4 linked regions of the Homo sapiens genome follow. The protein of the gene in region 4 binds, or shares a complex with, the protein of the main gene of each other region. Links are inferred from orthologs where the notes say so. Each region holds a gene or a part of one and is shown on either strand. Other genes may lie near its edges. The genes, in order: SPIRE2, MLPH, RAB11A and MYO5A.

Evidence for each region.
Region 1: the proteins of MYO5A (region 4) and SPIRE2 are in contact, whole or in part, in a crystal structure (PDB 5JCY), measured with the Homo sapiens proteins. Residues at the interface, in NP_001369276.1 of Homo sapiens: Asp1551, Val1554, Arg1555, Thr1559, Ile1562, Asn1563, Lys1566, Ser1597, Gly1598, Leu1615, Thr1616, Asn1617, Phe1618, Asp1619, Leu1620, Ala1621, Glu1622, Tyr1623, Val1626, Asp1629, Leu1630, Gln1633; in NP_115827.1 of Homo sapiens: Arg404, Pro405, Arg406, Val407, Leu408, Leu409, Lys410, Ala411, Pro412, Thr413, Leu414, Met417, Glu418, Met420.
Region 2: the proteins of MYO5A (region 4) and MLPH are in contact, whole or in part, in a crystal structure (PDB 4KP3), measured with the Mus musculus proteins. The link is inferred for Homo sapiens from one-to-one orthologs. Residues at the interface, in NP_034994.2 of Mus musculus: Asp1524, Val1527, Arg1528, Leu1531, Thr1532, Ile1535, Asn1536, Lys1539, Ser1570, Gly1571, Leu1588, Thr1589, Asn1590, Phe1591, Asp1592, Leu1593, Ala1594, Glu1595, Tyr1596, Val1599; in NP_443748.2 of Mus musculus: Lys184, Lys186, Arg187, Leu188, Leu189, Ser190, Phe191, Arg192, Asp195, Phe196, Glu197.
Region 3: the proteins of MYO5A (region 4) and RAB11A are in contact, whole or in part, in a crystal structure (PDB 5JCZ), measured with the Homo sapiens proteins. Residues at the interface, in NP_001369276.1 of Homo sapiens: Ile1660, Gln1661, Trp1738, Met1742, Arg1745, Tyr1746, Ser1749, Gln1750, Glu1753, Arg1756, Gln1777, Gln1780, Val1781, Lys1782, Lys1784, Met1795, Glu1818; in NP_004654.1 of Homo sapiens: Arg33, Glu35, Ile44, Gly45, Val46, Glu47, Phe48, Ala49, Thr50, Gln63, Trp65, Gln70, Tyr73, Ala75, Ile76, Ala79, Arg82.

What each region holds. Positions count from the first base shown.
Region 1 is NC_000016.10:89,864,706-89,872,295, reverse strand, and holds the end of SPIRE2 (protein spire homolog 2), read right to left. Parts: intron 4,108-7,590; coding exon 4,080-4,107; intron 2,730-4,079; coding exon 2,614-2,729; intron 2,247-2,613; coding exon 2,024-2,246; 3' UTR 977-2,023; downstream 1-976. UniProt on the Homo sapiens protein: Acts as an actin nucleation factor, remains associated with the slow-growing pointed end of the new filament.
Region 2 is NC_000002.12:237,552,118-237,556,934, forward strand, and holds the end of MLPH (melanophilin), read left to right. Parts: intron 1-219; coding exon 220-320; intron 321-979; coding exon of another isoform or gene 980-1,006; exon of another isoform or gene 1,007-1,114; intron 1,115-1,448; coding exon 1,449-1,475; 3' UTR 1,476-3,205; downstream 3,206-4,817. UniProt on the Homo sapiens protein: Rab effector protein involved in melanosome transport. Serves as link between melanosome-bound RAB27A and the motor protein MYO5A.
Region 3 is NC_000015.10:65,865,051-65,872,490, reverse strand, and holds the start of RAB11A (ras-related protein Rab-11A), read right to left. Parts: upstream 3,001-7,440; 5' UTR 2,906-3,000; coding exon 2,866-2,905; intron 1-2,865. UniProt on the Homo sapiens protein: The small GTPases Rab are key regulators of intracellular membrane trafficking, from the formation of transport vesicles to their fusion with membranes.
Region 4 is NC_000015.10:52,370,568-52,379,812, forward strand, and holds part of MYO5A (unconventional myosin-Va), read right to left. Parts: intron 9,167-9,245; coding exon 9,058-9,166; intron 5,992-9,057; coding exon 5,780-5,991; intron 4,894-5,779; coding exon 4,737-4,893; intron 1,797-4,736; coding exon 1,557-1,796; intron 1-1,556. UniProt on the Homo sapiens protein: Processive actin-based motor that can move in large steps approximating the 36-nm pseudo-repeat of the actin filament. Can hydrolyze ATP in the presence of actin, which is essential for its function as a motor protein. Involved in melanosome transport.

The sequences.
Region 1 (7,590 bases), on a different chromosome or scaffold from region 4:
GCTGGGATTACAGGTGTGAGCCACTGCACCTGCCGTGGTTTAGGGTTTTAACGTGGGCTTTCATTTCCAAGTGTTCCTGTATGAATTACAACCCAGTCTCCCCATGATAGGGAGTGTGAGTCCCCGTAGAACCAGAACAACCGTCGTCCTTACCAAGCACTACACATTAGCTTATTGCTGGCTGTGTGACCGGAGGAGTTCCCTGACCCTCTCTGTGCCTGTTTTCTTATTTTTAAACAGGAATAAAAATACAGGCCAGAGAGTCCGTGAAATGCTTACACGCATGCTAGAAGCTGGCTGTTTTTACTGGGGGCTCTAATTTTGTGTGTTTGGATTTCCTGGACCCCAGCTGACAGGAGTATTTTCTCCCGCAGGCCCATCAGTTACAAGTCCTGTCCCTTCTGACCTCCAGGCCCCACGGCTAGCATTACAGCCTGGAGTCAAAGTTCTGGGTGAGCTGTGTATCTTTGGCCAAATTCTTTGACCTCGTTGAGCCTCAGTTCCCTCATCTGTAAGGTAAGATGACGGCAGAACGTCACGGAGGAGCAGGGCAGGGCCCCGTTAACAGGCTGAGCCGGGCGCAGGTGAGCAGACAGCACTCGGCACAGGGCCTGTCTAGAGCCTGCAGTCACACCTCCTGCCCCTGTGGATCCTCTCCCTGGAGAACGAGAATACGGATCTGGGAAATGAGACCAAAGTACCCCCCAGGCCAGCAGGTGTGGCCAGAGGAGCTGATGGGCAGTAGTCTGTGCCGTCCGCATGCAGCCCTGACCATGGTGGCCAGGACCACGAAGCTGGTAGAGGCAGCCAGGGCTGCGTGGACAGAGCAGGCCTGGAGCCCTTGCCTGGTGGGCACCTGACTCTAAGCCAGGAGGCCTTTCCTCGTCCTGGAAGGCAGGTGGCCCCTCAAGCCCAGCTTCAACCTTGGGAGAACATGCCATGCTGGGTGAATCCTCAGCGCACATCCCAGACAGAAGACTGTGAGACCTCCTTTATTAGGCCAAGAGTGGCCATGTGCACAGATTTACAGAGCTGCTCCTCCCTGTGCCAGGACCGCCCAGCATCTTCAGGAGCCTCTGGGCCAGGGGCGAGTGAGGACAGCACCAGAATGTGGTAGGGCCAGGAGAGGCAGGACACATGTGGTTTGGACCCCAGGGAAAGGGAAAGGGCAAGGGCAGGGAGCAGCTTGGCACGGACCTTTTTTTTTTTCGAGACAGAGTCTCGCTCTGTCGCCCAGGCTGGAGTGCAGTGGTGCAATCTCGGCTCACTGCAACCTACACCTCCCGGGTTCAAGCGATTCTCCTGCCTCAGCCTCCCCTGTAGCTGGGATTACAGGTTCCTGCCACTATACCTGGCTAATTTTTGCATTTTCAGTAGAGACAACATTTCATCATGTTGGCCAGGCTGGTCTCAAACTCCTGACCTCAGGTGATCCTCCCTCCTCGGCCTCCCAAAGTGCTGGAATTACAGGCCTGAACCACCACGCCTGGCCAGACCTTTCAAACAGGTGGGGGTGCCTCCCAGGAGGACCCTGCCTACTCAGAGACTTCCCAGATGCCTCTGCTGCCTGAGTCCCCACAAAGGGAGAGCAGAGGCAAGCAGGGCACTCTGGTCCAGCTGGGAGCCAAGATACCCTGTCCCCACCTAGACGTCCACTGGGGAAGGGAAACTGCCGTTCGCATTCCTGGGGACGGAGAAGAGCATGGGAACATGGGATGCAGTCTGTGCCAGGATCTAGAACCTTCTGCTTTCTCTCTTCAGTGAGAAAACCCACCCTGTTCCCTCCCCTTCCTCCCTGGCAAGGAATCCTGAGAAGAAACAGCCTCCCCCAGGGAGGGTTTTGAAGTGCGCCTGAACCCAAATGAGCTCTGGGGCCAGGAAACAGTGTATATAAATATATAGACTGTGTGTATATATTATAAATGTATCTATATATGTATATATGTACATGCACAGCTCAGAGCGTCCTAGCCTGATACAGGGCCTGCCTGGTGCCTCCTGGAGGCCTGGCCACCTGGGGCTGTCACTTGAAGTCAAGAGTCCTGGTGTTAGGGATGTAGAGGGATTGGGTCTGGCGACTGCGTCGTGGCGTAGTGTTGAGGACGTCCACGCTCTTGCGGCTGGAACGCACCACGTCTGCCACAAAGCTGGTGCACTCACTGCAGACATCCTTCAGGACACAGCCGTGGGAGTAGATGTGGGGGAACGCCTCCTCCACGCTCTGCCACTGTGGCCCTTGCAGAGACCTGGGAAGTGGGAGAGGGCACTCAGGGAGAGGAGCCAGCCAGGGTGCCACACCCCCCTCCCTGCTTGTGCATGCCACAGCCCCCTCCTGGCTGCCTTTCACCCTAGGCCTCCCCTTGGCCCTCAGGCAACAAACACAGCTAGCAGTGTTCATCTCAGCAGACTGTTCCCTGACCACCCAAGTCCAGTTTCCATCTCATACTGCTCAGCCTCCCAGAGCCCTACACAACGATCCGTCTCTGCCTTGCATTTCCATTTCCTTGGGGTGTCCTAGCAAACAGACAAAGCCAGCCCCCTCCACCCCAGCTCCCAAGTTCCTCTTCACGCCCGACCACCACAGTGACATCAGCAGCAAGGCGAAGAACGCACTGAAAGATGTCTCTTCTCTGGATTGGCGCGGTTTTGGCAGCTGATACCCTCTGAGGACTCTCAAAGCCCAGTGTGTAGACAGGGATGTGTCCAAATTTCTTAGAAGGCATCTTCATCTGCAGCACAGAGGGAGGAGGTATGAACCAGGCACCACCAGAGACATTCAGGTACACTCAGTGCTAGGGGACCTCCCTCCCCAGTCTGGGACCTGCGTGGCAGCCAGGGCTTCCTGGAGAATATTCTCTGTCCCTGTGCTCTCCGATGTCTCCTCTGTGCCTTTTGGCTGAAGACTGGCACGGGGTTCCTGCTTGCTGCACATCTGGACAGGGGCTTCTTAGAGCGCAAGAACCGTCCCTTTTTATACCATGCGGGACCTGCCACGTTTCCTGCTCATCTGGACAGGGGCTCCTTAGAGGGCAAGAACTTTCCCTTTTTATACTATACGGGACCTGCCACCTTACCCTGCACATAATCAACATTTAACATGGATGAGGTGGAAGTTTTTCCATTGCCAAGTGGCAGGATGTAGAGTAAGATTTAAAAATAGTGGTAGTAAGAGTACTCCTTAAGCAGAGTTTTGCTTCTGAACTGAGGCCTGAGGGGTAACATATATATATATATATATATATTTTTTTTTTTTTTTTTTTTTTTAAGACACAGATCTTGCTCTATTGCCCAGGCTGGAGTACAGAGGCACAGCCATACTCACTGCAGCCTTGAATTTGCTGGGCTCAAGAGATCCTCCCACCTCAGCCTCCCAAAGTGCAGGAACTGCAGGCATGAGCCACCGCGCCTGGCTGGTGACATACTTTTATTTGTATTTTGTCTTTTTGAGACGGAGTCTCTGTCACCCAGGCTGTAGTGCAGTGGCACAATCATAGCTCACTGTGGCCTCCACCTCCCGGGTTCAAGTAATTCTCATGCCTCAGCCTCCTGAGTAGCTAGGATTACAGGTGCGTGCCACCATGCCCAGCTAATTTTTTTGTATTTTTAGTAGAGATGGGGTTTCACCATGTTGGCCAGGCTGGTCTCAAGTGGTCCGCCAGCCTCACTGGCCTCCCAAAATGCTGGGATTACAGGTGTGAGCCACCGTGCCCAGCTGACATACTTTTAAATGTTAGGATCCCTTTACCTCTGTGCACCTGCACATAAGCACACACCTCAACTGCAATAAGAAGCCCCTCCTAAAACACCCAAAAAGTTATAGAATGTAAGAAGGTAGGACTTTTAGAGGGGAAGTGAAGGGTTTTTTGGCACGAGGCTACTAACGTGCAATGTTTAAAAACAAAAACCTGTAAGGGTCTTTAAAAACTGCACACTATCTTGGAAAGTATAGGAATGGATTCTGCCTGAAAGGAAATGGATGAGGTGCCTGGTGAGGCAGCATCATCCAACACATCCAATCAAAGCCAGTGGAGCCCCTCATCTGCCTTGCTCAGACCCCAGAGATCCCACATGGTCCTCACCTTTATGCTACAGGAAGTGCAGACGGCTCTGGAAGGGAACAGAGGAAATGCAGCATCAGCAGGGAGGAAGCCCACAAACAGCTGAGAAACAGTCGCATCCCGGCCTCCACGCATCCGAGGTCAAACCATCCTTGCCTTCTGCCTGATGCTTGGTTACTTCAGTACTTTATTTTACTCCAAAATCTTGCTTTTCTTTATACTTAGGTATCCACCCAAAATATATGTGCTCCTTGGCATTCTCTCAGGAAGGATGGCTCCAGGAGTTTTCTCCTGCCAAGTTTTCTATTGCCAAGTGGTAGGATATAGAGTAAGGTTTAAACATAGTGGTGGTGGGCCAGATGTGGTAGCTTACGCCTGTAATCCCAGCACTTTGGGAGGCCAAGGCAAGTGGATCACCTGAGGTCAGGGGTTTGAGACAAGCCTGACCAACAAGGTGAAACCTCGTTTCTACTAAAAATACAAAAATGAGTTGGGCGTGGCAGCAGGCACCTGTAATCACAGCTACTTGGGGGGCTGAGATAGGAGAATGGCATGAACCTGGGAAGTGGAGGTTGCAGTGAGCTGAGATCACGCCACTGCACTCCAGCCTGGGGGACTGAGCGAAACTCTGTCTCAAAAAAAAAAAAAAATGGTGGTAAAAGTCCCTCTTAAGCAGATTTTTGTTTCTGAACCAAGGCATGATGGGTCTTTCTGAACCAAGCCATGATGGGTCACATACTTTTGGAAAGTTTAAAAACAAAAACCTACAAGGGTCTTTAAAAACTGCACACTGTCGGCCAGGCGCGATGCCTCACGCCTGTAATCCCAGCACTTTGGGAGGCCAAGGCAGGTGGATCACGAGGTCAGGTGTTCAACATCGGCCTGGCCAAGATGGTGAAACCCCGTCTCTACTAAAAATACAAAAAATTAGCCGGGCATGGTGGCGGGCACCTGTAATCCCAGCTACTCGGGAGGCTGAGGCAGAGAATTGCTTGAACCCAGGAGGCGGAAGTTGCAGTGAGCCGAGATCATGGCACTGCACCGCAGCCTGGGTGACAGAGAGAGACTCTGTCTCAAAAAAAACAAAAAGCAAACAACAACAACAACAAAAAACAAAAAAAAAACTTGCACACTGTCTTGGAAAGACATCTAAGATTCCTTCTAAGAAGACGTGTAGACATTGGTGTGTACCTGACACTACTCACCATAAAAGCACCATGGAAGCTAGAGGGGCCTCAACTGAGATGCTCAGTTTTAAACAGTGATTCAATTTTGTTTTAATTCCCATATCTGATTTCAAAAATAAATACCTTCTTATAAAAAATTCAAGGCTGGGCGCGGTGGCTCAAGCCTGTAATCCCAGCACTTTGGGAGACCGAGATGGGCAGATCACGAGGTCAGGAGATCGAGACCATCCTGGCTAACATGGTGAAACCCCGTCTCTACTAGAAATGCAAACAAATTAGCCAGGCCTGGTGGCGGGCACCTGTAGTTCCAGCTACTCGGGAGGCTGAGGCAGGAGAATGGCGTGAACCCGGGAGGTGGAGCTTGCAGTGAGCCGAGATTGTGCCACTGCACTCCAGCCTGGGTGACAGAGTGAGATTCCATCTCAAAAAAGAAAAAAGAAAAAAAAAAAAATTCAAGGCTGGGCGTGGTGGCTCACCGCTGTAATCCCAGCACTTTGGGAGGCCAAGGTGGGCGATCACCTGAGGTCGGGAGTTGGAGATCAACCTGACCAACATGGAGAAACCCCATCTCTACTAAAAATACGAAATTAGCAAGTGTGGTGGCACATGCCTGTAATGCCAGCTACTCAGGAGGCTGAGGCAGGAGAATCACTTGAACCTGGGAGGCAGAGGTTGCAGTGAGCTGAGATCGCGGCATTGCACTTCCGACTGGGCAACAAGAGTGAAACTCTATCTCAAAAAAATAAAAAAAAAAAATTCAAACATGAGAGAATTAAAATGTAGACACCACATGCTCAGAAGTGATCCCTGCTAGTAATGGTTTCCATCCTCCAGGCTTTTCCAAGCATATATCAACAGAAATATACATAATTTTACAGATAAAATTAGGTGATTTTTTTTTCCCAGACAGGTCTTGCTCTGTCACCCAGGCTGGAGTGCAGTGACACCGTCATAGCTCACTGCAGCCTTGACCTCCTTGGCTCAAGTGATCCTCCCACCTCAGCCTCCCAAAGTGCTGGGATTATAGGCATGAGCTACCATATCCACCATATCCAGCCTTACCTTTTTTTTTTTTTTTTTTTTTTGAGACAGTCTCCCTCTGTTGCCCAGTCTGGAGTGCAGTGGCGCGATCTCGGCTCACTGCACCCTCCACCTCACAGGTTCAAGCAGTTCTCCTGCCTCAGCCTCCCGAGTAGCTGGGACTACAGGCACCCGCCACCACGCCCAGCTAATTTTTTGTATTTTTAGTAGAGACAGGGTTTCATCGTGTTAGCCAGGATGGTCTCGATCTCCCGACCTCGTGATCTGCCAGCGTTGGCCTCCCAAAGTGCTGGGATCAAGGTGTGAGCCACCGCGCCCGGCCCAGCCTTACTTTTTTATTCAGTCTGGGAAATTCTAACTTTTACTTGGGTCGTGTGGATGACTTACAGTTAATGTGATGCGAGATACAGTTGTGTTTAAGGCTGTCATTTGCTATTTGTTTTGTTTTTGACTCATTTGTTTGTTCTCCTTCTTTTCCTACCTTTTTTTGGATTAATTACTGTTTATGGTCCCATCTTATCTCCTTTGTTGGCTTATTAGCTGTAACTGTTTTATTTTAGTGGTTGCTTTAGGACTTATGGTATACATCTTTAACTTATCACAGTCTACCTTTAAGTAATATTTGTATAGCGTGTATAATACCTTACTATACCTTATCATAGTGATTCACCTTACCATAGTGAACCTTAAAATAGTATACTTCTGGCCAGGCGCGGTGGCTTACGCCTGTAATCCCAACACTTTGGGAGGCAGAGGTGGGCAGATCCTGAGGTCAGGGGATCGAGACCATCCTGGCTAACATGGTGAAACCCCATCTCTACTAAAAATACAAAAAATTAGCTGGGAGTGGTAGCAGGTGCCTGTAGACCCAGCTACTCGGGAAGCTGAGGCAGGAGAATGGTGGGAACTCAGGAGGCGGAGCTTACAGTGAGCCAAGATCGTGCCACTGCACTCCAGCCTGGGCGCCAGAGCGAGACTCCTTCTCAAAAAAAAAAAAAAAAAAAAGGAAAAAAAGTATACTTCCAATTTTCCCCTCTCCCTGACCTTCATGCTAACTGCTGTTATCAACACTACTTACACACGTGTTACAAAACCCACAATACATTGTAATTAATTTTGTCTTGTTTTTTGCATGCCACACATTTTATCTTGCTGAGTACTGGTTTGTTTTTTTGTTGATGTTTAAAAAATTCTTATTCTTGAGCTTTGTTCTCAGAATCAGTTAAGATACTTGTGAACAGTTTGATCCTTTCAGGTCTTGCTTTTATGATGTATCAGTCAGGCCTAGAGCAACAATCACTTTG
Region 2 (4,817 bases), on a different chromosome or scaffold from region 4:
GCCAGTGCCAGAGCAAAGGAGAAAGAAGTTGGCAAAACTGTTGATTTGCATGACAGCTGAAATGTAAATACTTTTTAAAAAATATGTGATGTGGAAGCTTCTTAAAAGGGGATATGTCCATTTTTTTCTACCTTTTAAATTTCTGAGGAGGCCAAGGCACTTGTTTGGGCTAAGTATGTGATTGATAAAGCACCATCCCTCTTCCTGTTTTCCCCAAAGGTAAAGATGATGATTCTTTTGATCGGAAATCAGTGTACCGAGGCTCGCTGACACAGAGAAACCCCAACGCGAGGAAAGGAATGGCCAGCCACACCTTCGCGGTAAAGTTTTCTCTCATTCTCTGAGGAGTTTTTAAAGTTCAGTGACCCGTCAGATTTATGTATTAAAATTAAGTCTTCAGAGCAAAGAAAATGGAGATAAACAAAACAAAGATTCAGACCTGAGAATCAAAGCAAAAAGTAAAGTAAAATCTTTGCCAACGAGGGCTTGAAAATCTAAATACTTTGAAATTAGAATAATATCTTGTGTTTTAGAGCTTTAAATTTTCAAATATCTGCTGTCCACACACCCCATTGGAGGAGGACCTGTGTCACTAACCCAAATTTGTAGCTGAGAAAACAGAGGCAGAGAGAGGTTAAGTAAAAAACCCCAAGAGAGTTCACCTAATATTGTGAAGAAAGCAAACCCAGGGTTTCACTAACTTGTCCATGTGTGTATGTGTGTGGCTGCGTTCACCCCTGTGTGTGTGTGTACTGTGTGCATGCCTGTGTGTTTGTGCACACCCATGTGTATGTACCTGCATACACACCCAAGTGTGTGTGTTACCACAACGAAAGCGCAGATTTATTGAAAAGAAAGTGCACTCCACAGAGTGGGAGCAGGCTAGAGCCAGTGGCTCAGGAGCCTGGTTACAGCATTTTCTGGAGTTTAAGTGCCCTCCAGAGTTTTCCCATTGGTTACTTGGTTATACTCTATGCAGATGAAGGAGTGGCCCCAACCAATGTGATCAGTCGCAGGAGGCAACCAATCAGAGGCTGAAGGGAAGTTACAAAGTTACACATGAAGACTTGGCCGATGACCAGTCTGGTTGGTTGCGGGAGGGGACCAATCCGAGGTACTTTCCATTTTCATCTGAGATGCAGTGGAAAGGGGGTATAGCAAAGGGAGTAGCTGCTGAACCTTTTGTTCCTCAGGCATGGAGAGGTGGGGTTTTCATTTTGATTCAGTTCTAGGAAGTCAGCACGAATTGGCCTTAGGTTCCCTGCCTCCAGACCCTATTCTCTTGCCTCACATGCATGTGTGCACAAACGTGTAATCTAAATTTGTGTCTACAGATGTGCACATCCATGTACACACCTGTGTATTTGTATGTGCATGCCCATGTGTGTCTGTGTTACATGCCTGTGTATGTGTGTGCTTATATGTGCATGTGTGTTTGTACTTTACAGAAACCTGTGGTGGCCCACCAGTCCTAACGGGACAGGACAGAGAGACAGAGCAGCCCTGCACTGTTTTCCCTCCACCACAGCCATCCTGTCCCTCATTGGCTCTGTGCTTTCCACTATACACAGTCACCGTCCCAATGAGAAACAAGAAGGAGCACCCTCCACATGGACTCCCACCTGCAAGTGGACAGCGACATTCAGTCCTGCACTGCTCACCTGGGTTTACTGATGACTCCTGGCTGCCCCACCATCCTCTCTGATCTGTGAGAAACAGCTAAGCTGCTGTGACTTCCCTTTAGGACAATGTTGTGTAAATCTTTGAAGGACACACCGAAGACCTTTATACTGTGATCTTTTACCCCTTTCACTCTTGGCTTTCTTATGTTGCTTTCATGAATGGAATGGAAAAAAGATGACTCAGTTAAGGCACCAGCCATATGTGTATTCTTGATGGTCTATATCGGGGTGTGAGCAGATGTTTGCGTATTTCTTGTGGGTGTGACTGGATATTAGACATCCGGACAAGTGACTGAACTAATGATCTGCTGAATAATGAAGGAGGAATAGACACCCCAGTCCCCACCCTACGTGCACCCGCTCTGCAAGTTCCCATGTGATCTGTAGACCAGGGGAAATTACACTGCGGTCAAGGGCAGAGCCTGCACATGACAGCAAGTGAGCATTTGATAGATGCTCAGATGCTAGTGCAGAGAGCCTGCTGGGAGACGAAGAGACAGCAGGCAGAGCTCCAGATGGGCAAGGAAGAGGCTTGGTTCTAGCCTGGCTCTGCCCCTCACTGCAGTGGATCCAGTGGGGCAGAGGACAGAGGGTCACAACCAATGAGGGATGTCTGCCAAGGATGGGGGTGCAGAGGCCACAGGAGTCAGCTTGCCACTCGCCCATTGGTTACATAGATGATCTCTCAGACAGGCTGGGACTCAGAGTTATTTCCTAGTATCGGTGTGCCCCATCCAGTTTTAAGTGGAGCCCTCCAAGACTCTCCAGAGCTGCCTTTGAACATCCTAACAGTAATCACATCTCACCCTCCCTGAGGTTCACTTTAGACAGGACCCAATGGCTGCACTGCCTTTGTCAGAGGGGGTGCTGAGAGGAGTGGCTTCTTTTAGAATCAAACAGTAGAGACAAGAGTCAAGCCTTGTGTCTTCAAGCATTGACCAAGTTAAGTGTTTCCTTCCCTCTCTCAATAAGACACTTCCAGGAGCTTTCCAATCTCTCACTTAAAACTAAGGTTTGAATCTCAAAGTGTTGCTGGGAGGCTGATACTCCTGCAACTTCAGGAGACCTGTGAGCACACATTAGCAGCTGTTTCTCTGACTCCTTGTGGCATCAGATAAAAACGTGGGAGTTTTTCCATATAATTCCCAGCCTTACTTATAAATTCTATTCTTTGAAAAAATTATTCAGGCTAGGTAAGGTGGCTCATACCTATAATCCCAGCCCTTTGAGAGGCCAAGGTGGGAGAATTGCTTGAGGCCAGGAGTTTGAGACCTCCTGGGCAACATAGTGAGATCCCATCTCTACAAAAAACAAAACAAAAAAATTACCCAAGCATGATGGTATATGCCTGTAGTCGTACCTACTTACTTAGGAGGCTGAGGCAGGAGGATCACTTGAGCCCTGGAGGTTGGGGCTGCAGTGAGCCATGATCGCATCACTATACTCGAGCCTGGGCAACAGAGTGAGACCTTGTCTCTTAAAAAAATTAATAATAAATAAATGAAAATAATTCTTCAGAGTTCCTTTCCTAGCAGATGGCTATTCTGGAGATGTGTAGTGGAAGCTGCATACAGGCAGGTCAGGGATCCCTGAGGCTAGTGTACCCCAACCAGTACAGCTGCTGGCTCTTTGTTTCCAGCTAAAGATTGACAGAAGTCAGTGGTTTCTCTATGACTCCAGAGGGAGATTAGAGACAAGCATTTAAAATATTTCTCCAAAGTTTTATCCTCCAACAGTCTTATTTATAAGGGGAAAAAGAAAAAATTTTAGGAAGCGTTGAATGCACAGATCTCCCAAAGATGCTTCTTACAAATGAGCTATGAGTGTGCAGCAAAATTGCACTCCCCAGATAATCCAGTATCCAACATATTGCAATATAGCACCCAGATCACCAAGGGATACCTTGCCTCACTGCAGATTATTGGGGTGAAACACAATTTGACAGGTGTAGCTCCCAGCTCTCAGGGATCAAACCAACCATGCATTACAGTGTTGCAGTTTCACTGATTTTATGTCAAGCCATTGTTTCTGTAAGTTCCAAGGATTTTCACTTTCCAACAGCTCTATCCAAAAGAACCCACTTTACTGGGGGCCAAAAACCCATCCCCAAAAGAGTAATAGTAATGGTATTGTCACTTGCTGGGCTTCTGAGAGCCCAGCTAAAGCTCCACTTTAGCATGCTGGTGACAGCCAAGTAATCCTCACATATTCACAATGCTCATAACTTCAAAGTTATTCTTATAGAGAATATTTATTACATATGAATTTTTTTTATTTTATTGGGATAAAACAGAAAAGATAGATATGCAAAAGAAAAAAAATACATAAAAAAAGAATCATCTACCCACTAGCAACCACTGCTAAGTCCTTGCAGACATTGGTTCACGTATTAGCTTTTAATAAAACTCCCACAAGTTAATATACTAGTAGGTGAGTAAAGCCCATTCCAAACATGACCGCACACCTATATCTTCCCAGGAAAGAGCCAGCCCCAGAAATAAGTATTTTACCCATGTATGCTACCCATATTCCCCTGAAAATATCTACAGCAAAGTCTTCCCAGAGACAGCCTTGCTGTCTAAATGAACAAACTGCTCAGTTATTTCCAATGAACACACCTGCAGCTCAATGGCATCTGGGCTCAGAGTTCCAAGGACATGGCCATGCTGGGGAAAGGAGTATTTTGCTACATCACCACAGACACTTGTAACAGTCTATGATTGTTAATTTTATGGATCAAATTGGCTCAGCTGTGGTGCCCAGATGTCTGATCAAACACCAGCCAAGATGTATCTATGCAGGTATTCTGTAGCTGTGATTAAGGTTTAAATCAGTAGACTTTAAAGCAGATAACCTGCCATAAAGTGGGTGGGCCTTCCCCAGCCAGTTGCAGGCCTTAGGAGAAAAGACAGATGTGCCCTGAGCAGGAAGGAGTTCTGCCTCCAGACTCCAGGGACAACTTTCCTCCTTCGCTGGGTCTCCAGCCTGATGGCTAGTCCTGCAGGATTCAGACCTCCCAGGCCCTGCAATCTTATGAGCCTATTCCTTAGACTAAATCTCTCCTCCCCCTCTCTCTCTCTCCCTCCCTCCCTCTCTCTCTGTTCTCTCTCCTCTCTCTCCCTCCCTCCCTCTCTC
Region 3 (7,440 bases), about 13 Mb from region 4:
TGCACTCCAACCTGGGAAACAAGAGCGAAATACCATCTCAAAAAAAAAAAAAAAAAGTAGAAATCCTCCTTAGCAGAATTTTTAACACCCTATCTTAAACAGCAAAATGCACAACAAAATGAAACCATAACCCATGGAAACATAAAATGCATTCGAAGTTCCTAGTTTTATTTTCTTTAATAATATTTAAATGCTCTTGTAGTTGAACCTACATTTAAGGTTCAAAAAACTGACAAAGGCCAGGCACAGTGGCTCACGCCTATAATCCCAGCACTTGGGGAGGCTGAGGAAGGTGGATTGCTTAAGTCCAGGAGTGCGAGACCAGCCTGGGCAACATGGCAAAACCCTGTCTTTACAAAAAAACAAAAAACTAGCCGGGCGTGGTGGCGCGCTCCTGTAGTCTCAGCTACTCCTAGGAGCTAGAGAGTAGCTAGGGAGGCTGAGGTCGGGGGGTCACCTGAGCCTGAGGAGGCCGAGACTGCAGTGAGCCTTGATTGTGCCACTGCACTCCAGCCTGGGGGACAGAGCGAGACCCTGTCTCCAAAAAAAAAAAAAAAAAAAAAAAAAAAAACTGACAAAACCACAGTAACTTCTTTCACATTATTACCATTTATTGAGTCCTCATGGTTAAAATTTTACGAACAGTCTCATTATTTAATTCTCACAATCTTAAGAGGCAGGTATTTTCCTTTTTATAAAGTAGAGAACTGAGACTCAGAAAAGTTAACTTTTCCAAGGTCATAAAGTAAATATAAGACCTGAGTCAGGATCTAAACCGAGGTCTACGTGATTCCAAAGCTCAGTGCTCTCAATTGTTGCTAGAAGGATGGTCTAATCAAAAAGTTAAAATACTTTAGGCCAATTCAGAATATTTAATATTCTTTGTTAAAAAATAAAAGGACCTTGTATAACCAACATTCAAGTTCAAACCAAACAGGAGAAATACCCTGACGGTCTATCTTGTTCTGAATTAATTACTTCAAAGACAACCTTTATAAAAGCACACTACCATTATACCATATTTCAAAACACAAACCTAACCTTTAACCCCAAAGTCTCAAGAGATTCAAATAGTTTCACATCATCTCAGATACCTTCGGCAAAAGGTATGCTGTCATATACTTTTTGTAATCCAGGCCTCAGTTTTGTATTTGTAAAATGAACTAAGTACCCTGAAAGTACTTTCCAGTATGGAGGGGGAGGGTGGATACCAAAAGTATTCACCCTATACAGTAGAATATTCTGAGTCAGAGGAGTAAGAGATGATAAGAGTATAACAGCAGACTAGTTAGTATAACAAGATTTGCAAAGTATTGGGAAAGCAAAGAAATCTTTCCTGCTTGGTTTAGTCAATCATTCTTAGCACCCAATGGCAAAGACAGAAACAGTCACCATGCTTAACACTCTTGAAACTCCACCCTCCACAGTAAAGCTTTAATAGCAATGGCTTCTTCCTCAGTGGTAATGATCTTTGTTCGGCACACTACTGATGGCTACCTTCCCAATTCAGGAGCAGAGAAAGAGCATCAGAGTGAGAGTGCATTCACTGAACAAAAAAAGCATCTACTGTACTCTCTTCTCATTGAAAAATGTACCCTTTATCTTCGTTGATTAAAAAAAAAAACCGGATTCCTTCCGGACTCAACCAATAAGCAATTCTTTCTAACCAACCCTGACCCTCCAATATGTTCTGTCCAAGGGCACTACATGTTTCCGTATCTTATAATAAATATTTAATGTAACCAAAAGAGCACACAACTTCCTCCCACCCCCAACCTTTTGGGAAAGGTATGTGGCTAACTAGGGCTCTTCCCTTCCTGTTGGATCCTCCCAGCGTTGCAGCAGGAAGCAACCAGTTCATAGAGATAAAGCAAGCTAGTATTTGTGCAGCGCACAACCTTTCCTGCTCAGGAACCAGGCCTTCAGGTCTGGCAAGGATAACAGCCACCACCCATCCGCAACCTCATCTCGCGAACCGAGTAAAGAGTTATCCCGGGTTGGGTGCCACTGAGTAGGGAGGGCAAGAAAAGAAAAGGCTAGGTGGGAAGTAATGTCAGCCTGCCGGGTCACTGCGACAAGTGCGCGAGTGGGTGATGGGCGATCCCTCTTACCCTCCCTCCCACCACCCAGGTCGCAACGGAGACAAGGGAGCTCTAAACACGATTTGGGGAGGGAAGGTAGAGAGAGTTGCCAAATGGGGAGTGGGAGAGGGAGCGGTCAGAGAAGGTTAAGGACCGCGAGAACCGCGGGGCGGAGGGTGGGGGCGGAGGCCCTTGGCCCGCTCAGATTTTACGGGGTCCTGGACCCGGGATGGGAGAAGCTTAGAGGGGCGGCCGTCCAAGTGGAGGGGAGATACAGAAGAGACGCTCGCTCGAGGGGGGAAAGAGGGCAGATAAGAAAAAGACCTGTAATGGGAGTCTGCACCGAAGGCAAGGCCAAGAGGGAAGCGAAGAACCCGTCAGAGGGGCTTCGGGAGAGGACGCGAGCTGGGAAGGGTGTACGCCGAGGGGGAGGGGGCGCTACACCCGAAAAGAGAGATGGTGGGAGGAGCGGCGGGGCCGTAGAACCCGGGGAAAGGAATTCGACGATGTGGGAGAAGGCAGTCCGCCAGGGGAAGGACACGCAGGGAGGGGCTCTGAGGCCAGCGAAGGCCTATGGAGAGGTCGCTCAGAGAGCGGCATGTGATGGGGACCCCTGTCTGAGCGGGGGAGAAGAGGCTGAGCTGGGTAGGAGACGGAACCGCACAAAAAGGAAGGGCTGAGGGAGGCCTATATCAGTGCAGGGGTGGCCGGCACGAGGGTCCACCGGGAGTGGCCCGGGTCCCCGAACGAGGACTGTGTAGAGTGCGAGAGCCCATGGCCTCACCTTTAAAGAGGTAGTCGTACTCGTCGTCGCGGGTGCCCATTGCGCGGCCGAGGAGCGAAAGGGCGGGAGCAGCAGTGGTATCTGTGGGACCAGGGGGCGTCGCTGCAGGGGTAACCCGAGCGCCGAGCTTCAACTGCCGGACTGGGTGAAGAGCCCCTCCCTGCCGCTGCGCCATTTCCGGCAGGCCCCAGCCTTTAAGGGGAAGTACTTCCGGGGGCGGCGCCCCGCCCCTGAGCCCAACAAGGGCGGTGTGCGCGAGAGTCGAGATGCGTGGGGCTTCAAGCTTTAGTCGCTAAAGGAGGCTCAAAGGGGAAACTGAGTCCTGGAACTCCTAGCTACCATAGTCTTAGTGGCCGCTTGCTCATTTCTCGAGCTACCGTGCCGGAAGCGGCTCGCTGGAACCAGGCGGGACCGCCTGTGAGTGGTGGGTTTGTGGATGGGGGCGGGGTTCTCTGAGGATTAGACAGCCGAAGGCAGCTACACATGCGTGGCGGTTCCATGGTGTAATGGTTAGCACTCTGGACTCTGAATCCAGCGATCCGAGTTCAAATCTCGGTGGAACCTGCATTGGTTTTTGTTTTTTTAATCTTGACAACATCTTTAATTCACTTTTTTGGTCACTAAGTAATTGAACAACTATGACACATCTTAAGATGGAGATGTAAAATTTAATCCTTGCCTATGAAGACCTCACAAATTTCCCACTGCATTTCAGGTGCTATCTGCTACCTGGCGGGGGGTTGTCTTAATGAGCTTCTTCACTGCCTTTTTTTTAACCCTGGGCTTTCAAGCCTTGATTCAAAAGCTTCAGTGAAACTTGAAAATTCCTTTTGCTGGAATTTTCTACCTCCAGCTTCATGCACGGGTAGGCGCTTGTCACTCACTCCTCTCCGGAAATCTCGCAATCTATCTCATTTTCATTTAGAGTACTTCGCCCACCCTCCTCATCAAGATTCATCAAGAACTTGAGTCCTATTTGTAGGCCTCTAATCTAAGTCCGTTTACATAAGTATTTCATTTAACATGCCAAGCAAAGGATGGTAATTTCCATTTTAGCGGAAGTTTGGATACTAAGACTCAAGTGATTTGCCAGATATCATGTCGCAGGGCCTCCCTGTATTTGAAGAGAATTTTGTCATTCCAGAAAAGCCTTTATCCAATTATTGTCACACCTCCTACCTCCTATATGCAAACTCTCGATTTAGACTTGTGGGCAAGTATGCCTATAACAAGCAGAATAATGCCCCCTGCCAATGATGTCCACTTCCCAATTCCTGGAGACTGAATAGGTTAGGTTACATGGCAAAGGGGAATTGAGGTTACAGATGAAATTAAGGTTGCTTATCAGCTGACATTAAATTAGGGATATTATCCTGGATTAGTTGGGTGGGCCCAGTGTTGTCATAAGGTCCTTAAAAGTAGAAAATGGGCTGGGCACGGTGGCTCAGGCCTTAATTCCAGCACTTTGGGAGGCCAAGGTGGGTGGATCACCTGAGGTCAAGAGTTCAAGACCAGCCTGGCCAACAAGGTGAAACCCTGTCGCTACTAAAATACAAAAAATTAGTCTGGCGTGGTGGTGGGTGCCTGTAGTCCCAGCTACTCTGGAGGCTTAGGCATGAGAATTGCTGGAACCCGGGAAGCGGAGGTTGCAGTGAGCTGATACCACGCCACTGCACTCCAGCCTGGGCAACAGAGAGAGACTCGTTCTCAAAAAAAAAAAAAAAAAAGTGGAAAATGGAGGCAGAAGAGGTCAGAGTGATGTGACTTGAAAAGACCTCAATCTGCCCTTGCTGGCTTTGAAGATGGAGGAAAGGGCCCAGGAGCCTAGGAATCTGGAGGCTTCTAGAAGCTGGGAAAGGCATGGAAACAGATTCTTCCATAAGGCCCCCAGAAGGAACACAGCCCTGCTGACAACTTGATTTTAGCCCAATGAGACACTTGTCAGACCTGTGACCTACAGAACTTTAAGCAATAAATTTGTGTTGTTTTATGTCACCAAGTTTGTGGTAATTTGTTATAGAAGCAATAGAAAACAAATACAGTGCCAATTTCCGTGCTTTCTCTACTGCTATAAAGTGATAGTAAGTTTATCTAAGGTCCTGTAATCCCAGCTACTCAGGAGGCTGAGGCAGGAGAATTGCTTGAACCAAGGAGATGGAGGTTGCAGAGAGCCGAGATTGCGCCACTGCACTCCAGCCTGGTGACAGAGTAAGACTCCTCAAAAAAAAAAAAAAGAACACTAATGTTTAATTTAGTCTCAAGCATGACTAATAAAAATGGTGTGTTGGTTAATACTGAGTGTCAGCTTGATTGAATTGAAGGATCCAAAGTATTGATCCTGGTTGTGTCTGTGAGGGTGTTCCCAAAGCAGAAACAGTTGAGTCAATGGGCTGGGAAAGGCAGACCCACCCTTAATCCGGGTGGGCACCATCTAATCAGCTGCCAGCGAATATAAAGCAGGCAGAAAAATATGAAAAGGCTAAACTGGCTTAGCCTCCCAGCCTACATCTTTCTCCCGTGCTGGATGTTTCCTGCCCTCGAACATTGGACTGCAAGTTCTTCAGCTTTGAGACTCGCACTGGCTTCCTTGCCTCTCAGCTTGCAGAAGGCCTATTGTAGGACCTTGTGATCATGTGACTTAATACTACTTAATAAATTGCCCTTTATATATGTGTCTATCCTATTAGTTCTGTTCCTCTAGAGAACCCTGACTAGTACAGTTGGTAAGAAAATCAAAAGGAACTCTCTAGTAAAAAGCCTGGAATTATAAATTTAGAAATGCCTAGCCTTAGACTATGGGGGAGAAGCAAGACCTGAAATATATCTCACCCTCCACATCTGGGGAGGTAACTTTACATGTTTGTTAAAAACAAAGTGAGGACTGATAAGTCTGTGTTTATACTTCAGCTCAGCCATTCACTAAAGCTGTGTCAATTTCAATAATTTAATCCTGCTGAATCCCAGTTTCTTACCTGCAAAATGGGGACAAACAGGAAGAAGGAATTAAGTAACAATGTATAGCTGTTAATATCATGCATGGCATATAATAAATATTTATGAATGCATTGATTTTCTTTTCTCTTTTTTTTTGAGTCAGGGTCTTGCTGCGTCACCCAGGCTGGAGTGCAGTAGTGCGATGTCAGCTCACGGCAACCTCCATATGCTGGGCTCAAGCAATTCTCCCACCTCCACCTCCACCTCCCAAGCAGCTGGGACTACAGGTGTGCGCCATCGCACCTGGCTAATTTTTGTATTATTTGTAGAGATGGGGTTTTGCCATCTTTGCCCAGGCTGTTCTTGAACTCCTGAGCTCAAGCGATCCTCCCACCTCAGCCTCCAAAAGTGCTGAGATTACAGGAATAAGCCACTGCACCTGGCCAAATGCAATGATTTTCAACGGGTCAATTTGGTCCCCAGAGACATTTGATAATATCTGGAGACATTTTTAGTGTCACTACTTGGGAGTGCTACTGGTATCTAGTAGAGACCAGGGATACTGCTAAACGTTCTACAACACACAGGATAGCACTCCCATCAAAAAGAATTATCTGGCCCAAAATGTTAATAGTTACCAAAGTTGAGAACCATGAGTTATTATTTTAAGAATTAGCCAGATGCGAGGCCAGAGCCTATGATGGGAAAGGGGCAGGGTGCCATGATCCTCACCTCCCTGTCCTAGCTCATTTGAAGAAAGCGAACTCACTCCCTAGGTCTCAGGAAGAATGCCCAGGGACAGACGTTCCTCCCGTCAGTATCCCATAAAGCAGAGCCTGGGGGCCACCGGCCTGACACAGAAAGCTTCCATAGTGGCTTCCATTTGTTAAATAAACCTATCACTCTTCTATTTCTTTCTTTTTTCTTATTTTTTTCAAGATGGAGTCTCTCTTTATCGCCCAGGCTGGAGTGCAGTGGTACTAACTCGGCTCACTGCAACCTCTGCCTGCCAGGTTCAAGTGATTATCCTGCCTCAGCCTTCTGAGTAGCTGGCATTACAGGCATGCACCACCACACCGGGCTAATTTTTGTATTTTTGTAGAGACAGGGTTTCACCATGTTGGCCAGGCTGATCTCAAACTCCTGACCTCAAGTGATCCACCCACCTCGGCCTCCCAAAGTGCTGAGATTACAGGTGTGAGCCACCGCGCCCGGCCTCAGTGTTCTATTTCTTAACTCAAAGGATTTTTACAGGGTTGTTCCCTTTATAACTGTGTGTTAAACTCTACATACCAGTTTTATGCACTTTTGTAATAGTATTAGGTTTATTTCACAATACAATTTTTAGATGGGGCATGGTGGCTTGTGCCTGGGAGGCCAAGGTAGGAGTATCACTTGATGCCAGGAGTTCAAGACCAGCCTAGGCAACCTAGCGAGACCCCCCCTATCTCTACAAAAAATGGAGAAATTAGCCAGACATGATGGCACCTATGTACCTATAGTCCCAGCTACTCAGGAGGCTGAGGTGGGAGGATCACTTGAGCCGAGGAGTTCAAGGTTACAATGAGCCATGATCATACCACCACACTGCAACCTGGGCAACAGAGCAAGACTCTGTCTCCAAAAAAAAAACAAAAATGT
Region 4 (9,245 bases):
CAACCAATACCTTCTAGGTGACACAAACAGAGAAGAAAACAGGCACAATTAATTCAATTCTGTTTGATGTGGTAAGCAAGATGGATGTGATTTTCTCATAGTCACAGGGTGAGTTACATAGTAAATTCTTAATTTCCTGATTCTTAATTCAGAAATAGGAGGATCTATACTTGTTTTTGAAAACAGATCAAAATGTTGCTAAAAACCATTTACTAGCTTAGTGATGCGTACGAATGATTAAAACAGCCTCAAAATCCCAAGTTGGCCAGGTGTAGTGGCTCACACCTATAGTCTCAACACTTTGGGAGGCCAAGGCAGGAGGATCACAAGAGGCCAGGAGTTCAAGACTAGCCTGGGCACATAATGAGACCCCGTCTTTACAAAAAAATTTAAAAATTAGCTAGACATGGTGGTGTGTACCTGTAGTCCTAGCTACTTGGGAGGCTGAGGCAGGAGGATCACTTGAGCCCAGGAGTTTGAGGCTGTAGTGAGCCGTGATTGCACTGCTGTACTTTAGCCTGGGTGACAGGGTGAGAATCTGTCCTAAAACAAAAAACAAAAAAAAAAAACCCTCTCCCTACACACACACACGTTTCTCACAAATCTTTATGTTTACTACCTCAAAATTTCTCCCTCCCACTCAGAAAATCTTCCATCCCATTTCATTCTGATCCCTGTTTTGCTTTGCTCTCCTTAGCATTTTTATATTCTTAATTACCTTTATATCATTTACATGTGCTAAAATATTAGTAACTATCTTTAATCAAACAAACTTTTATCTCTGCAACAGATTGCAAGTTCATCAGAAGCATCAACATTTTCCTGATGCTTTTGCTATTTCAATGCTAAACCAACTCATCTGTAAAATGAACATGATACCACATGAAAATAAATGATAATTTTGATAGAGCATTGCCAAGTACAAAATACAGTATGCCTGGTTCAAGCTGGTGTTTGAAAAATAAGTAACATACAATATGACTCTTGGTCATAAAGGTTTGAAGCATTAGTAGATCTCTGTTCTCAAAAATAATTTCCTGCCAGGCATGGTAGCTCATGCTTGTAATCCCAGTACTTTGGGAGGCTGAGGCAGGAGGATTGCTTGAGGCAACAGCCTGGCAACATGAGACCCTGTTTCTACAAAATAAAAAAATTAGCTGGGTGTGGTAGTACGTGCCTGTAGTCCCATATACTCAGAAGGCTGTGGTGGGAAGATCACTTGAGCCCAGCAGGTTGAGGCTGCAGTGAGCTGTGACCATGCCACTGAACTCTAGCCTGGGCGACAGAGTGAGACCCTGTCTCAAATAATAGTAATAATAATAATAATAATAATAATAATAATAATAATAATAATAACTTCCTGCCTTAGTTTTTGCAATTGTGATCCACCTTATGAGTTCATAAGTACTTCCATGCCCATTATGGAAATAAATACGGTCATAATTTTACTTTTTACTAAGACCGAAGGGTAAAGTCAAAGAAAAACAATATTGAAAATAATCCTGGTGGATTTCTTCAGGCATACTCCACTCTCAGGGCCCCTTTGTGAAACACACCTGCTCATCAACTTTGCGCTGCAGCTGCATGATCTTGTTCTCCATGCCGATGTGCAGCTTCTTATAGCGCTCCACTGAGCGAGCCTCGATTTTGAGCTTCTTTAGCTCACGCTTGGCCATCATCCGCCTGAAGCAGCACTGAAGGTAGATGATGGCATGCATGCTCCTCTTGTAGTGTGTGCGGGCCAGCCAGCCCCGGACTCGCTTCTGAATGATGACTGCTTTGTGCTCACGGAGTATCTGCAGAAAAGGATAAGGGCAAGCAATGTCAAGACCCTGGACTACACTCATGATTATCAATCTATGTCGGGCTGAAAATCCACACATTACCTAGAGGAAAAGACATAAAAGTTGAATTGACAATGTACTATGTAGATTATACTTATCACAGATATATGGAGGCTACAAAATTATTTTTAAAAGTGATTTGAAAAGTAGACTTTAGAAGGTGATTTCAGAAACATACATAAAAATGTGTCATATGCACATATTATGTGTATAATTCTAAGCAGAATATAGAGTTGGAAGCTGTCTAAATAAAAAGCACCAGATTACCAAAAGAAAAACAACTATAAAAAGAAAGAAAAAATACATTAGGTTTCTTATTAGTATATGATTTCTGTTGGCAACAGATGATCCTCTATAAAATTAACAGAACCAGGCATCCTGTAAACTATGTGCTACTAAAATAAGAGATATCCCCACCACCCTGACTGCTGATACCACCTCACTATGCATTATTAGGCCCGTGCATGAGGACACGGGGTATGGGCAGCAAACTGTCTGTAGAGGCCAACACTTGGGGTACTAAAAAGTTTGTACTGATTTATTGATTTTTTTTTTTTTTAGAAACTAAAAGATGACACTCTTGTTTACCACATTTGAGGAATACCATTCTAGTGAGGATTTTCCATTGCTATTTCAAATGTAGCAAGGATCCACTTTTGGGATTCAAAGGTAGGAGGGATGGGGCTTTAAAATGAAAGGTAAAAGTAAAAAGATGTGAAACAAACTAATCTTACTTTTGATTTTATGTTACATTTCCTAAAAAAAAATGATATTTCCCTAAACTTATAAACAAACAAAAGTTTGCCTTATTAGATGAATTTGTTGTCGCTAAAGAGCACCAAAAAGACACCGTGTAAACATTTTCTAGGAAAGATGGAGAAGAAATTCTTGAATTTTAAGAAGAGGTAGCCAGGCACAGTGACTGGATAAATAAAACTATTAATGCCAATTTTCCTGTTCCATTTGCTTCTCCCATGTAACTTTGGACATGGGTCCATTTTTGTAATTTTAGTCAAATGGAAACAGCATTTAATCAGAGCTTCCATTTTCAATCTCACTTTCATCATGAGTGAGAGAAATTAATCAACACCTGTACTCTCTTTAAGACCCCCCCACTCCAAATCTCATGAAGGGGAACCTTGGACCTGAAATACAGCTAGAAGGAGCACTAATGTGATGGCTGTTGGCTTACATGTGAGCAAGCCTCTACGCTACCACCTTCCACCCTGTCCAGTCACAGTGGGAGCCTGAGCTGGCCGGAGGCTGCCACTGCTAAACCAGTGACCTCAAAACCCAGCTCAGATGTTCCTAAGGAAAGTAGTGAGGAACACAGGAAGGTAACTAGTTTGGTGTATCTGAAAAGCAACTTCAAACCTCTTTCCTCCCTAAAATCTCACGCTTATATAGAAAGAGCATGAGACTACATAAAGGAGGGGTGAGCAGAAAGATCTGGAGTAGCTATCTTCAAAACACAGCTATTAAATACACTCATTCAAGCCTCACCAGTTTCGAATTTTTTGTTGTCTAAAATCACTTCAAATAAAAATAAATAAATAAATAAATAAATAAATAAATAGGGCCTAGGTCACACCCATATACTGTCTGTGCTTAGAGACCCAAATCACCCCATTAATGCTCCTTCTAATGGTGATGTCCATAGAGCTCTAATATCCAGGCTTGTATTTCTCACTGATTTGAAATATAGCCTGTAGGATAGACTCCAAACCTTGCCAAAATGAAAGAGATAAAAATCGTTCATCAATGGTCACAGGTGATAATTAAGACTACTCTGGTGACCCCATTAATTATTGCTAGATGTAAGATTATTTGTCAAAAACTTTTGGAGCATTGTATCTGTCAATACAATTTTAACCACATTAATGTTATAATTTGCCTCCTCTTCACCATGGTAAATTCTTCCAAGGTTGTCTCATTCTTGGAATAACCTTTAACCTGTTTGTCATATATTCTATCTATTCAAAGTTCTCTGTAGTCATCTGAATAGGGGGCCCCAAGGAAATTAGGTGCTAATCCCTGGAACCTGCAAATGCTATTTATTCAGAAAAAGGGCCTTTGCAGATGTGATTAGGTTAAGGGTCTTCAGATGGGAGGATTATCCTGGATCACATGGGTGGAACCAAATGCTATCATAATTATTCTTATAAGAGGCAGATAGGAGAAGTCAAGTCAGATACACAGAAGAGAAAATGCTGTGAAAACAGAGGCTGAGACTGGACTGATGTGGCTACAAGCACAGGAATGCTGGCAGCCACCAGAAGCTGCAAGAGGCAAGGAATGGATTCTCCCCTGGAGCTTCTGGAAGGAGAGCAGCCTGCTGACAACTTGATTTTGTCCCATTGATAATGATTTTGGACTTCTGGTCTCCAGAACTCTGAGAGAATTAATTTTGGCTGTTTTAAGGTAACAAGTTTGTGATAATTTATTATAGCAGCCACAGTAAACTAACATACTTTTTTTTTCAAATTATATAAACAAAGAGAAAGAAGGAGGTAAAAGTTTTTTTCCCATTGTTTTGTTAATAACTGTATGTGATTATTTAGTATTTTAAAATGCATTTCAGGCTGGGCATGTGCACAATGGCTCATACCTATAATCTCAGCACTTTGGGAAGCCACAGTGGGAAGACTGCTTGAGGCCAGGAGTTTGAGGCTGCAGTGTACTATGACTGCACCACTGCACCCCAGCCAGGGTGACAGAGCGAGATCCTATTTCTAAAAAAGAATTTTTTAAAATAAATAAATATGCATTTCAATAGCTGGTTGTCCCCATACAGTTCCTACCTTCATTGTAGCCCCTGTGGTACTCTGTATAGATGTGAAATTTGGTTAATGCTAATAGAATGAATAAACAAAGTTGAAAATAATGCCTCACCTTGCGATACCTATTTCTGGCCAAGAAGCCTCGCAAGTAAGACTGAAGAACGATAGTGGCAGCTCGTCTAATCTTGTACCTCCTGCGGACCACATACATGCGCCAGTACTTTTGAATGATGGTTGCTGCCTTGGTTCTGCGCAGAAACTTAGCATAGCTGGCCAAAGAAAATAACATTATGTTGTCAGTAATCAGAAAAAAATGCAGGAATACATATTAGAGAAACTTAAAGAGTGTCACTGTTTTAGGCATAAATAGTACCTCCATTGTATTATTCTAATAATGTGCATGCTAAGTCAACATTTATATTTACTTACATTTGTATAGCAATTTATAGTTTCCCAAAGTATTTTTGCATTTATTATCTCATTTGAGCCCTCCCTAACTCTGGAAAGTAGGATGGCCCACATTGCCAGATTTTACAAGAAAGCAAAATTCACAAAAATTCATTCTTTCTACAACAGGATCCATTTACCCCAGGCCATGCCTCTTTATAGAACAGACAGACATACACAGTAATCTCATACTTAGTTATCACCAGCTTTCTTGGATCTAGCCATTATTCATCTACCATATTTTTCCTGATTTTGTTAGGCTATAAGCTCATGATTAATTCAGTTCTACTTATACTTCTCAATTAAAATTAAACTAATAAGTAATCACACTAAAGTGTAATTCTCTTCCAGACCCTCTCAGTTAATTGCTCCCAAAAATTATACAATGAAGTCATTATTACCTAGCTCATATTCACGACTGTTTTAATTGATACATGATTTCCTCAAGCCCAATATAAAAGTATCAAAAATAAAAATTTTGAGGACATAAGTAAGCAGCAGTTTGTAAATGTTTTGAAGATAAATCTGAATCATTCATAAGGCTGAGTGAAATTTTATTCTATTTAGCTGTCCTATGAGTTAATTTGTTGTCCCTTGGAACTAAGAAAAGGTGAGGTGTTATCTTTTCAGCTATGGTGACCAGTCAAAACTGTCCTTGGTTGGACAGTGAATTAGATGGGCACTCTACTCTGTCCCCAGGAGACCTACCATCGGGCCTGGTAGCCCCGCACGTATCTCTGCATGGTGATGGCTGCCTTCCGCATGCGTAGGTACTTCTTTCTCAGCAGCCACCCTCGGATGGTCTTCTGGATCCGGATGCAGGCAGCTCTCAGTTTGTCAGCTCTCAATTTTTCTAGATAGGCCACTTGACCGGCACGGAAAAAGATCTTTGTCTTACCAAACTGGTATTTGTCCTTGTCCTATTTTTGGAAGAAATTGTATATTCAGAAATAATAATCATATAAGTGAAATTTAAAAGAAAAAATGTCTAAAAGCAGAATCAGTAAAGGAATGACTCTATTAGCTAAAACTTGGGCTACATCACAATTAACTAATGGAGCCAGATTTTTAATCCTATGCAAGTTGAGCAAATAGAAGGGATTTTAAGAAAAACTGCAGTTTAAGAGTTATTTTCCAGAATTATTCTACCTGGAATTATTATCTGAGGCCCAAAACTTGGTTGTGGGTTATAGGCAGTTATTATTTGCTTGTTTGTGTTTTAAACATCTCAAGGAAATGGAGATGCTGACTCTCTCTGACTGACCCAGGTTGTAAGGATTACAGCGGGCTGTATATTCCATGAGAAGCTGAAGGGACAAAAACACCAGTGTGAAGAATAAGGCAGGAAGAAACGTTTATGAAATAAAATTCAAAAACCAAAAACCAAAATCCTTGGGTATTCATATTGAGTTATGTTTCTAAACAGTTAGCTCTTGGCTTTATCAATAATATCTGAAAACAAACTAACAAAACCCCATAAATATGTTTAAAATCCTACAAATTGGCCGGGTGTAGTGGCTCACGTGTGTAATCCTAGCACTTCGGGAGGTCAAGGCTGGCGGATCATGAGGTCAGGAGATCGAGAACATCCTGGCCAACATGGTGAAACCCTGTCTCTATTAAAATACAAAAAATTAGCCGGGCATGGTGGCATGCACCTGTATTCCCAACTACTTGGGAGGCTGAGGCAGGGGAATTGCTTGAACCCAGGAGGTGGAGGTTGCAGTGAGCCAAGATCGCGCCACTGCACTCCAGCCTAGCAACAGAGCAAGAATCCGTCTCAAAAAAAAAAAATCCTTTCAAACTCCTTTTACAAAAACATAATAATTTATATTACATTGTGATTCACCTTATCTAGAAGTATGCAAATCATTAATCATTCTTGCATCAAAGAATGGAATTTATATGTAAGAATCATTACTGTGACCTGGAATTCTTTTTTTTTTTTTTTGAGATGAGTCTCGCTCTGTCTCCCAAGCTGGAGTACAGTGCTGTAATCTCGGCTCACTGCAGCCTCCGCCTTCTGGGTTCAAGCGACACTCCTGCCTCAGCCCCCTGAGTAGCTGGGATTACAGGTAAACACCACTACGTCCAGCTAATTTTTGTATTTTTAGTGGAGACAGGGTTTCACCATATTGGCCAGGGTGGCCTCAAACGCTGGGCCTCAAGCAGTCCGCCCGCCACGGCCTCCAAAAGTGCTGGGATTAAGGGCGTGAGCCACCATGCTTGGCCATGTGATCTGAAAGTCTAAGGGAAAACAGAGAAAATCATTTTTCCCTATGAGTAGATATCTCATATTATCTCATATATGAAACCAAAAAATCTGACACATCCACATATATCTAAAAAATCTACAATTATTTCAATTTAAATCAATAAAGTTTACATTGGAAACCTAGCTAGAAAAGTGGTCCTTACCCGCATCCCGCTTCACACCTCACACCAACCCTGCCTCCATCTTTCAGCCTCCTCTGCCTAACTAAATTCCCACAAAGCCCTGATCCAGGCCTGAAATGGCCTGGGTGAGAGGACCAGGAATAGGCCTGTTCCTACTTTCTGCTCTACATTCCCACCTGAACACAGGTTAGAAGGGGATTGGGCAGGCTGGGCGCAGTGGCTCACACCTGTAATCCCAGCACTTTGGGAGGCCGAGGCGGGCAGATCACGAGGTCAGGAGTTCAAGACCAGCCTGGCCAACATGGTAAAACCCTGTTTCTACTAAAAATACAAAAATTAGCTGGGTGTGGTGGTGTGCACCTATAATCCCAGCTACTGGGGGGGCTGAGGTAGGAGAATGGCTTGAACCCACGAGGCGGAGGTTGCAGTGAGCCGAGATGCCACTGTACTCCAGCCTGGGTGAAAGAGCAAGACTGTCTCAAAAAAAAAAAAAAAAGAAGGGAATTGGGGCAAACTCAAAAAGCCCCAGTTAAAAAAAAAAAAAAAGCATTGCTGAGGAAGTGGCCTTAGCTCTTTCAAGGAAAAAATATTATTAACAAAAAAAAGGCATCACATTTAGTTCACAGCTAGTAATTATGATCAATTAGCTCAAAGTGAGGTACTCCATCTAGGATAGTGTTAACCAAGTGAAAATATTATTTTAAAAACTTTTCATGAATCTTTAATTCTCTAAGACCAAGATCAGTAGTTCTCAAAATATAGTCCTCAGACAGCATCGGCATCACCCGGGAAATACAAATTCTTGGGCCCAACCTCAGACCTACTGAATCAGAAATTCTGATGGCGGGGCCCAGCAATCTGTATTTTAACAAGCATTCCAGGTCACAGTAAAGTTGGAGAACTCTTTAGCCTGGTCTGCAAGACTCTCTGTAACACCAACCTACATTTCCTAACCATTTCTCTACTGTCCCATACACAAATCTCACACTGCAAAAAACTGTTTTCTGAGCAAACCCTATGCTTACCCTGCTCTTACTCCCTCTTATAATAGTCTCCTTCCATTTTTGCATAACCTTACCCATTCTCAGGGCCTGACTCAAAACACACCTCTTTGATGAAATCTCTCCTTCCCATAGCTGGACGTCGCTTTGTCATCCCCTGATTTCTTGTTCCATTCATTCAGCATTTGATATAGACACTACAGTTAAATATTATACTCGTCTTTAAAAAGTATTACTTTCCAAGTAAGACTATATTACCTGAGAACAAGCTTTATTTTTTCTTAATCACACAGCATTTGGCCTGGTGTCTTCTAGATGTAAGTACTAGGTACACTTTTATCAATAATAATCAAGCTGTCTAAGAAGAATGTGTTTCAAATGTGGGTCCAGGCCTCACAGCTCTGCCTCCTGACGGTGGACTATCATCCTCGCTAGTTCCAGCATCCTAAACACAGTAGTGTGCCCCTCTCTGATCCCACCCCGAAATGATCTGGACTAGTAAAATGTTATACAAAAGTTCCCGGGGCTTTCCAAGGTCAGAACCACAAGGCCTTCTGCTCAGATGACGGTAAGCGAAATCATTCTCACCAGTATCAGTTTCTCTAACACATTCTTGCATGTTTGCTTTCTGTCACTCAGCACATCTTTCTGCTTCATTAGGACACGGTAGCGGCTGAAAAATTCTTGGTAAGTCCACCTATTAAAAGAAAACCATCTGAGTTTACTTAAAGAACTAGGATCTTCTCCCATTAGGATCCCTTACATCTGAAAAATGC